Linked DNA regions of Homo sapiens: region 2 is linked to region 1. The links come from fine-mapping of genetic effects on gene expression. A gene starts in region 1. The other region holds a variant in brackets. All regions are shown on one strand. Distances are from middle to middle.

Region 1 (4,393 bases):
TTCCAAAACCACTGTTCCCTGCATAACCTACCAGTGTGCACGACGCTGAGCCGGATCTCCCCTATCACCCCATCAACATCAGGTGGGTTCTTCACCTGGCAGGTGTATGTCCCATTGTCGTCGAACTGCAGTTTCCAGAGAAGGATGGAGGCATCGTACCGCTCAGGATTCCCATCCCAAGACACCCGGTCCTTAAACCGCCCACTCATGGGTTGGAAGGGATCTATGTGGTAGTAGAATACCTAGAGAGGGGAAATGGCAAAAGGTCTTCTTACTCAGCACCCAGGCAAGGAGGCCAAGATGGTGGGAGCGGAAGTGAAACACCAGCAAACCCAACTGTCCTGTCTGCAGCTCTGTCACTTGCTTTCCCCTTCAACGGCCTCTCAGTCTCTGTCCCAAGAATTGTTTCCGAGCTTAACCTTGTGCTTGCTGCTAAGAAAAATACTGGAAGGGAAAGGAGAAATGGACTGGCTTATTATTTCCCTAAACAAGAGTACCCTGGAAAATGATGATAATCTACTTACAAACTGCTCAGGTCCCCCGTCTAGAGGACGAAAATTCCAGGTCACTGTTAGAGCATCACCCACAGGGGCAAAGCTGGAGAAAGTGCATTTTAACCGAGCATCTGTCCCATTAACAGCCTCCAGCACCCGGGAGGTATAAATTTCCACAGCTGCTATAGGCCAAAGAGCTGCAATGAAAAAGAAGAAAAAGAAGGGTTAACAGGGGATGTAGTATTGTGAGAACTTCTGCTGACACTTCCAAAATAAATATCTGAGTAGGACTTAAAGTAAAGTGAAACTGAGATGCCCCATCTCCCAAACTTACTTCACCCAGAATCTACATACTCCTACCTGTATGCAGCCTGGACCCTCCCATTCCATGTGACAACTAAACTACCACACAGCAAGCCTTCGCAGTGCTTTTACTTTCTCCACAGCATTAAAGCCTCGCCTCGTGGTACTGACTTCAAAACTGTTATAACAAACTACAAACATCCGCAAATAGAATTGAAAGCATAAACAAAAAATTAAAATGAATCATAACATTGATTAGACATTACATTATGTATTAAGGTTAAGCATTATGTGTTGTATGTAAAGTGGTCTCCTAGCAGGTAAGTTTTCCAGATGGGTCCTTAGGTGGATTTCATACTGTTACTAGTCTATTGCAGAAACTGAATTAATCAACTCCAGACAGCTTATGTTTGCCTGCACCCCTAGAACCTTTGTACCACGTGGCATTTTTTTAAACTTGATATTTACATTTAGAATGTGTGTGTTGGGGCACTTTCAAAATCACAGTAGGTCTCTCTCTAACAATCTCCACTTTCCTGGTGTTGCTGAGAGTCACAGACAAGACCCACACACAGAAATCCAAATGCCAAGTCCTGCCAGCAGTGGGAGGTTGAGAACAGCCACACACAAAAAAATGGCATGTAACCTGAGATTAGAAAGCCCTCTCTGTGCCTGAATCACTGGCAGCTGAACACACCTAAACCTGTTTGTCCGAGAGCAGTTCTCCAAAAACAGTCCACCAACTTTGGTTTCAGTAAAACCCAAAGTAAAACAAACTGTATCTGTGGCTCAGGCTCCCAAACAAAAGTCTTGCAACTTCTAAGACAATTAGCTAACTTTATAGAGTGAGCAGTGAAGGAGGAAACTCTGAGAGAAGCCCGCCGGCTCTTACCTGTGAGCTGTATGCCAAGGAGAAGAAGCACCGCACGAGTAGAGCTCTTGCCATACATGAGGGAAACCCAGCCTTGGCCCCAGAGACCGGACGGGGCAGACCGAGGGCTCCAACACCCTGCCAAGGCCACTCCGGGAGGAGCAAGCACCGCGTTTTCCCAGAGAGAGGAGTTTGAGTTGAGTTCCTCACCTGTGCCTGTGACTCAGCCCGCTCTGCCTGTGCACTTTTCTGAAATGAAAGGTGGGGCCTCAGCTCCCAATGCCCTCCTTCCTTTCCTCTCTCCCGCCCTCTACACGAACGAGCATGAGCACGTCTGCACAAAGGTCCCAAACTCCCGCAGTCCTCTCTTTACTTTCAGTTAATCTGACTGGGCTCTGGCCTCTAGATGGCCTCGGAAACAGCCAGAGGAGGTGGTGCCAGTCTGAAATGTCCCAGACTGTTATGGGTTTGGCCCCCACACGCCCTTTTAAAACAGGCTTTAGGCTTGCCTGGGAAGTGAATGTTGAAACTGTCCTGCAGTGATTCCACTTCTCAAAGCACCACCCCAGGGCCACATTCACTTGGGACTGGATTCGATACAATTTCAAAACGGGAGTCGGAATTCCTTAGGACCCTCTGTGGACAAAAAGCTGATACCCCTGTTACCACAAGGATTCCTGCACTTCTTCTAGTTTGTAGCTTTCCAGGAGACCTGGCAGAAACAACAAATCAAATCTCCATGCTTAACAATCCTTTACCTTTGAAGACTTTAAAAACAAATGAGGACACCATCCCTGCTCATTCACCCTGCCATCCGAGTGCAATCTACAAAGTGCTCTCCTGCTGATTGTTTCATCTCCATTAACGCCCTTGTGAAGCATTCCCATTCTACCAGTGAGGACGCTAAGAACCCGAGGAAGGTAAATGATTTGCCCAAGGTTGCACAGCTACCATGTGGCAAAACCAGAACTTTTCTTAAAAATCTAGCGTTCTTTCCACCAAATAACAGCTAATATGAACAATCAGACATGGGGCTCTCAAGGAAAAGGTTTTCATGATAACTTTGTTGTGCCTCGGATTTCATCTGTCATTTTTTGAATAGCTAAATGACTGAGAAGTCTAAAGAGCTGAGGAATCTAAACGAGAAAAGATGCCTCCTTGTCTGGAAAGAGGGTGGGTCATCTTTACAGATTAATGAAGCGGCACAGAAACATCGGTAGGAGGGGGATGAAGATTACACATGCAGTTAAGAAGTAGGCTGGGCTGGGAATCTAACCCTGAAAAAAGACAGATTGCGTTTATCCCTGGATTAGCAGTCTAGAAACTCTTCAGTCACTCATAAAATCTTCTAGCTGAATCCAGAGCAGAAAGGGTGGCAGGAACAAGAGAAGGCGGCAGGCTGAGTAGAAAAAAATAAAACATCATAAAGAGGGAAGAAAAGAGAAAATTCTACCAAAAGAGAGGAGAATGCAGAAGTGCAGAAAACAGAAAGCAACAGGAGAAAGATGACATGGGCATGGAGCAAAAACAGGTAGACAACCACAAAAATCCATTGTGTTGGAACTCAGAAAGCAGAGGTGGCCCCAAATGCAGACCAGCTGTGTGCTAGTGAAAATCTGTTGCATGGTGAGAGTTTCTGAAAACTGTGTGGCGTCTTTGTCAGATTCTAGTTCAGAAAGGGACCTAAAATCAGTCTGCTGGGGGAACCTTTCAGATGTTGGTGAGGAAGGATAAGATACAGCCTTTCTGGTATGTAGGTCAGAAGAGTTCAGCTCCAGGACCCTGAAAGAAAAAGAGTTAAGGAAACTTGATCTTGGTTGGCTTCCAACTTTGCAGGGAAATACAGCTACAGAGGAAGGAGAGGTAGAGCCAGGATTTTGAAGTCTACAGCAAATTGCAAAAACTGGTGAGAGGTAGAGTTACCAAAGAGCTCAGGGATGCAGTGAAAAGCAACAGGAGAAGAATCAGGGCAGGAAGAACTGAACAAACTGCCTGTTGTCAGGAGCAGAAATCCCTCCCCCAGGTAGCCAAACACCCATGAGCTGGTTGCCAGCCTTGCTCTGAGGGGCAGGAGTTATCCAGATCCCACTTCTCAGCTGAGTTCAAGTTCCTGGCTTAGTGCCTGGCAACGCCCAGTTCCTTCCAGTTAGCAGGAGTGGCTCCACAGTCAACCACTTCACCTCACTGGGCAAGGAAGAGGCCAAGGGTAGAAGGTTAAGAAGAGAAAATGCTAAATAAAAAGGATGTTTGCCCCTCACAGTTTTCTGGACACCAGTCAGCAGGACTTAGACCAAAACTGCAGGCATCTACATAAGGCCTAAGTTATGTTTGTGCCCAGGCAAATGGAAGGAAAGGAAGAGGAGTTCTGGAAATTGAAAAGAAGAAAAGTAAAGTTTTCAGAGACACCATTTTCTTTCTAAACTTTTCCAGAGAAAGATCCTGATTGTCATTTAAAATTGTGACATACCAATAGTTTTTGAAAGAATCTCATCTGTCCCATCCATCTACACATTTCCCAAAAAATGATTTCTAGTGAGTATCTAGACCTTAGCCAGCAGGAGACTCACTGGGGGCTCAGGAGACAGAAGGGACAGTGGGCCTGTATCAATATTTGTAAAAGTTGTCTTTCTCAACCTCCTAGGCAAAAATCTTTTTTTCACCTAAGGTGAAATTAGCATTCTGTGAAGCAAGGAAAACAAATAATTTAGCTCTTAGGGTCATCAAA
Region 2 (4,393 bases), 77 kb before region 1:
TGCAATGGCGCAATCTCGGCTCACCGCAACCTCCACCTTCCGAGTTAAAGCAATTCTTCTGCCTCAGCCTCCTGAGTAGCTGGGATTACAGGCATGCGCCACCACACCCAGCTAATTTTGTATTTTTAGTAGAGACAGGGTTTCTCCATGTTGGTCAGGCTGGTCTCAAACTCCCAACCTCAGGTGATCCGCCCAACTTGGCCTCCCAAAATGCTGGGATTACAGGCGTGAGCCACCACGCCTGGCCGACAAAAGGCTGCAGCCTTTTGAAGGAGACTCAGCTCATCTTCTACCGATCCCCAGTGGACAAGCAGAACTGTTTTCAGTTGCGATAGCCAAATTCTGAAGCTGCTAGGTTCTCCATTATTCATGAGTAGCTCCGCTCCCTCCAGCCTTGGGGCTGCTTTCTGTTGGCAAAGGCCTGTGTACTTCTGCAAACCTTAAAATATGAGAGCATCTGATGTTCCAGGGATCTAAAATACTGCAAATTCAGGTAACAAAACTGCTTTCCAAAGGCTCTACTACAGGGATCTTCAGTAGCTTTCCAGTCCTTCAAAATCTGTCTCCTCAGAGCTATACAAAGCCTTGGCCTAAGCTCAGCTTCCTAACTCAGTCTTTCTTCGGATAGGAAGAGGGATTTACGGATTTTGGTAAAGCGCTTTTTGTCCGTAGAAATCAAAATTAAGAGATGGGGACTGAATCACCAGAAGATATTGTCCATCCCTATTGTTAATTGTGTTATTAAGATTGAATAGCAAAGATTGACTAGCATTAAATAGAAGATAAAATAACCTATTTCTGAGTGGGTTCTTCATTTCTGAGTGACGTTAAGAAGATACATCTACCTGGAAAAACACATTTGAAGGAAAGGGAGGGCTCAGGCCAGGCACTATCCCCTATACTACCTCATTCAGTCCTTGCAAAACAAACAAACTAACAAACTTCTGTGAGTCTCCATTTTACATATAAGGAAAACAGCCTCAAAGGATTTAAACACACTTTGCAATATTGAAGAGGAAGAGGCAGCCAGGATTTGAACCAGGACTATTTGATCTTGAAGCCCATTCCCTACACAATTTCCCTTCATGTTCCTGGGTGTAATGGACAAACCACCTCTAGCAGAAGGGCTGAGAGAGAAGCCGGTCTCTTTCCCAGTCCCCTGTAGGGCTGCTTCGGCTTTAGGCGAAATTCGTGTTTGACAACTGTGGACTTCCACCCTCAACCTTGGCTCCATGCCTGTGGATAAGAAGGTTTGTAGGGAAGAAGACTTGGAGCAGAGATGTGGGCTTCCTCTTCCTCCCCCTCAGTCACAACTGCCGAACCCAGAATGGAAGCCAATCTCTGAATGAATCAAATTTGAATTTGGGCACACCTACACTTTCACGGTCCAAGTGCCTGCTGAGGATCATGTGGCTAACCTGTCCAGCCCATCCTCCTGCTCTTACCCTAATTATTTTCTTAGACCCTGAGCAACAGATGTAAAATCACCATCCACCCACCTAACTCTGTATCCTGAAGGCCATCTTCCAATGCACACAATATTTGAGGAAGTGGAAAAGGGTCCCTTATTCCAGGAGAGAAGTTACTTAATAGCCCAGAAATGAAACCACTTCCTCTCCATGAACACTCCAGATATAATAAAGTCCTCTTCCCCCTCTACTTGTCTCACCAATATGTGTCCCTGGTATGTCTGGGACAGGATACTGCCTTCAATACCCATATGGAAAACCCTGACATAACTCCTCATCAAGAGCTGGCAGATAGGAAGGAAGAATTTAATGATGCTTATCCATGTCTAAACTAGAACATAACCTGTGTGTTATGAGAGGATCCTAATGTTTGGAGAGTTGGGGGAAATCATTAAAAATGTAGCCCCACCAGCCGCAGTGGTTCATACCTGTAATCCTAGCACTTTGGGAGGCCGAGGCAGGTGGATTGCCTGAGCTTGGGAGTTCAAGACCAGCCTGGGAAGCATGGTGAAACCCCGTCTCTACTAAAAATACAAAAAATTAGCCGGGCATGGCAGTGTGTGCCTGTAATCCCTGTAATCGCCTGTAATACTTGGGAGGCTGAGACAAGAGAATCACTTGAACCTGGGAGGCAGAGGTTGCAGTGAGCCGTAATAGCACCATTGCACTCCAGCCTGGGTGACAGAGCGAGACTCCGTCTCAAAAAAGGAAAAAAAAAATGTAGCCCCATTTAAGACTGGATCAGAAATCAGAAAAACAGAAAAGACCTCCTCTTTATCTGGCCCTGCATGGCTAAATATGAAGAAAGGGTTGCAGAGAATAAGAAAGAGTCTGT[A/G]GCAGTCAAGGAAAGGAGACCAGAGCTGAACCCAGGCTGGTCCGCAGAGGCTGGAAGTTGTTCAGAACCAAAGGATATTCTTTAGTTTCTTCTTTTCCTTCCTCTTCCCTTTCCCTTCCTTTCCTCTTTCTTATTTTGAGACAGGATCTTAGCCTGTTGCCCAGGCTGGAGTGGAGTGCAGTGGCGCAATCATATCTCACTGCAGCTTCTAACTCCTGGGCTTGAGTGATCTTCCTACCTTAGCCTCCTGAGTAGCTGGGACCAAAGGCATGCACCTCCACACCTAGCTAATCAATTTTATTTATTTTATTTTATTTTATTTTACTTTATTTTATTGAGATGAGGGTCTCACCATGTTGCCCAGACTGGTCTTGAACTCCTGGCCTCAAGTGATCCTCCCCTTCAGCCTCCCAAAGTGCTGGGATTACAAGCATGAGACACTGCACCCAACCCCAAAGGATTTTTTTTTCAATAGGTTTTTGGGGAACAGGTGGTGTTTGGTTACATGAGTAAGTTCTTCAGTGGTGATTTCTGAGATATTGATGCACCCATCACCTGAGCAGTGTACACTGTACCCAGTGTGTAGTCTTTTATCCCTTACCTCCCCACCCTTTCTGAGTCCTCAGAGTTTATTGTATCATTCTTATGCCTTTGCATCCTCATAGCTTAGCTCCCACTTATAGGTGAGAACATACGATGTTTGATTTTCCATTCGTGAGTTACTTGACTTAGAATAATGTTCTCCAGTTCCATCCAGATTGCTGCAAATGGCATTATTTCATTCCTTTTTATGGCTGAGTAGTATTCCATGGTATATATATATACCATATTTATTTTCTTCTTTGCATCCTCATAGCTTAGCTCCCACTTAGCTCCCATTCCCAAACATATGAGGTTTGGTTTTCCATTCCTGAGTTACTTGACTTAGAATAATGTTCTCCAGTTCCATCCAGGTTGCTGCAAATGGCATTATTTCATTCCTTTTTATGGCTGAGTAGTATTCCATGATGTGTATATATATATATATATATACCATATTTATTTTCTTTAACCACTCATTGATTGATGGGCAATTGGGCTGATTCCATATTTTTGCAATTGCGAATTGTGCTGCTATAAACATGCATGGGGAGGCATCTTTTTTCTTCTTTTTTCAAGACAGAGTCTTGCTCTGTCACCCAGGCTGGAGTGCAGTGGTGTGATCTCAGATCACAACCTCCATCTCCCAGGTTCAAGCAATTCTCCTGCCTCAGCCTCTCAAGCAGCTGGGATTACAGACATGTGCCACTACACCCAGCTAATTTTTGTATTTTTGGTAGAGACAGGGTTTCACCATGTTGGCAAGGCTGGTCTTGAACTCCTGACCTCGTGATCCACCTGCCTTGGCCTCCCAAAATGCTGAGATTACAGACGTGAGCCACCATGCCCAGCCTATCTTTTTCATATAATGACTTCTTTTCCTCTGGGCAAATACCCAGTAGTGGGATTGCTGGATCAAATGGTAGATCTATTTTTAGTTCTTTAAGGAATCTCCACACTGTTTTCCATCATGGTTGTACTAGTTGACATTCCCACCAACCTTGTAAAAGTGTTCCCTTTTCACCACATCCATGCCAACATCTAAAATTTAAAATTAAAAAAAATTTTTTTTTATTATGACTGTTCTTGCAGGAGTGAGGTGGTATGGCATAGTGGTTTTGATTTGCATTTCCTGATAATTAGTGATGTTGAGCATTTTTTCGTATGTTTCTTGGCCATTTGTATATCTTCTTTTGAGAATTGTCTATTCATGTCCTTAGCCCACTAATTTATGGGTTTGTTTGTTTTATTCTTGCTGATTTATTTGAGTTCCTTGTAGATTCTGGATATTATAATAGTCCTTTGTTGGATATACAGATTGCAAAGATTTTCTCCCACTCTGTGGGTTGTCTGTTTACTCTGCTGATTATTTCTTTTGCTGTGCAAAAGCTTTTTAGTTTAATTAAATCCCATCTATTTATCTTTGTTTTTGTTGCATTTGCTTTTGGGTTCTTGGTCATGAAGTCTTTGCCTAACCCAATGTCTAGAAGGGTTTTTCTAATGTTATCTC

What was found. PIP is the estimated chance that this variant, and not a neighbour inherited with it, causes the effect. A credible set is the group of variants that fine-mapping cannot tell apart.
Region 2: its variant is the best candidate, but not a certain one, in a credible set for the expression of MPZL2 in blood mononuclear cells (TOPMed, PIP 0.80).

The regions. Positions count from the first base shown.
Region 1 is chr11:118,262,407-118,266,799 of GRCh38, forward strand. MPZL2 (myelin protein zero like 2) reads right to left here and starts at 1,891. Exons shown (of 6, transcript NM_005797.4): 1 at 1,690-1,891; 2 at 525-691; 3 at 32-242. The coding sequence starts at 1,747. RefSeq lists an enhancer at 1,643-1,692.
Region 2 is chr11:118,185,339-118,189,731 of GRCh38, forward strand. No RefSeq gene overlaps it. Among named protein-coding and RNA genes, the nearest start is that of SCN2B, 11 kb to the left of the region's middle. The variant A/G (reference allele first, on the strand shown) is at 2,305.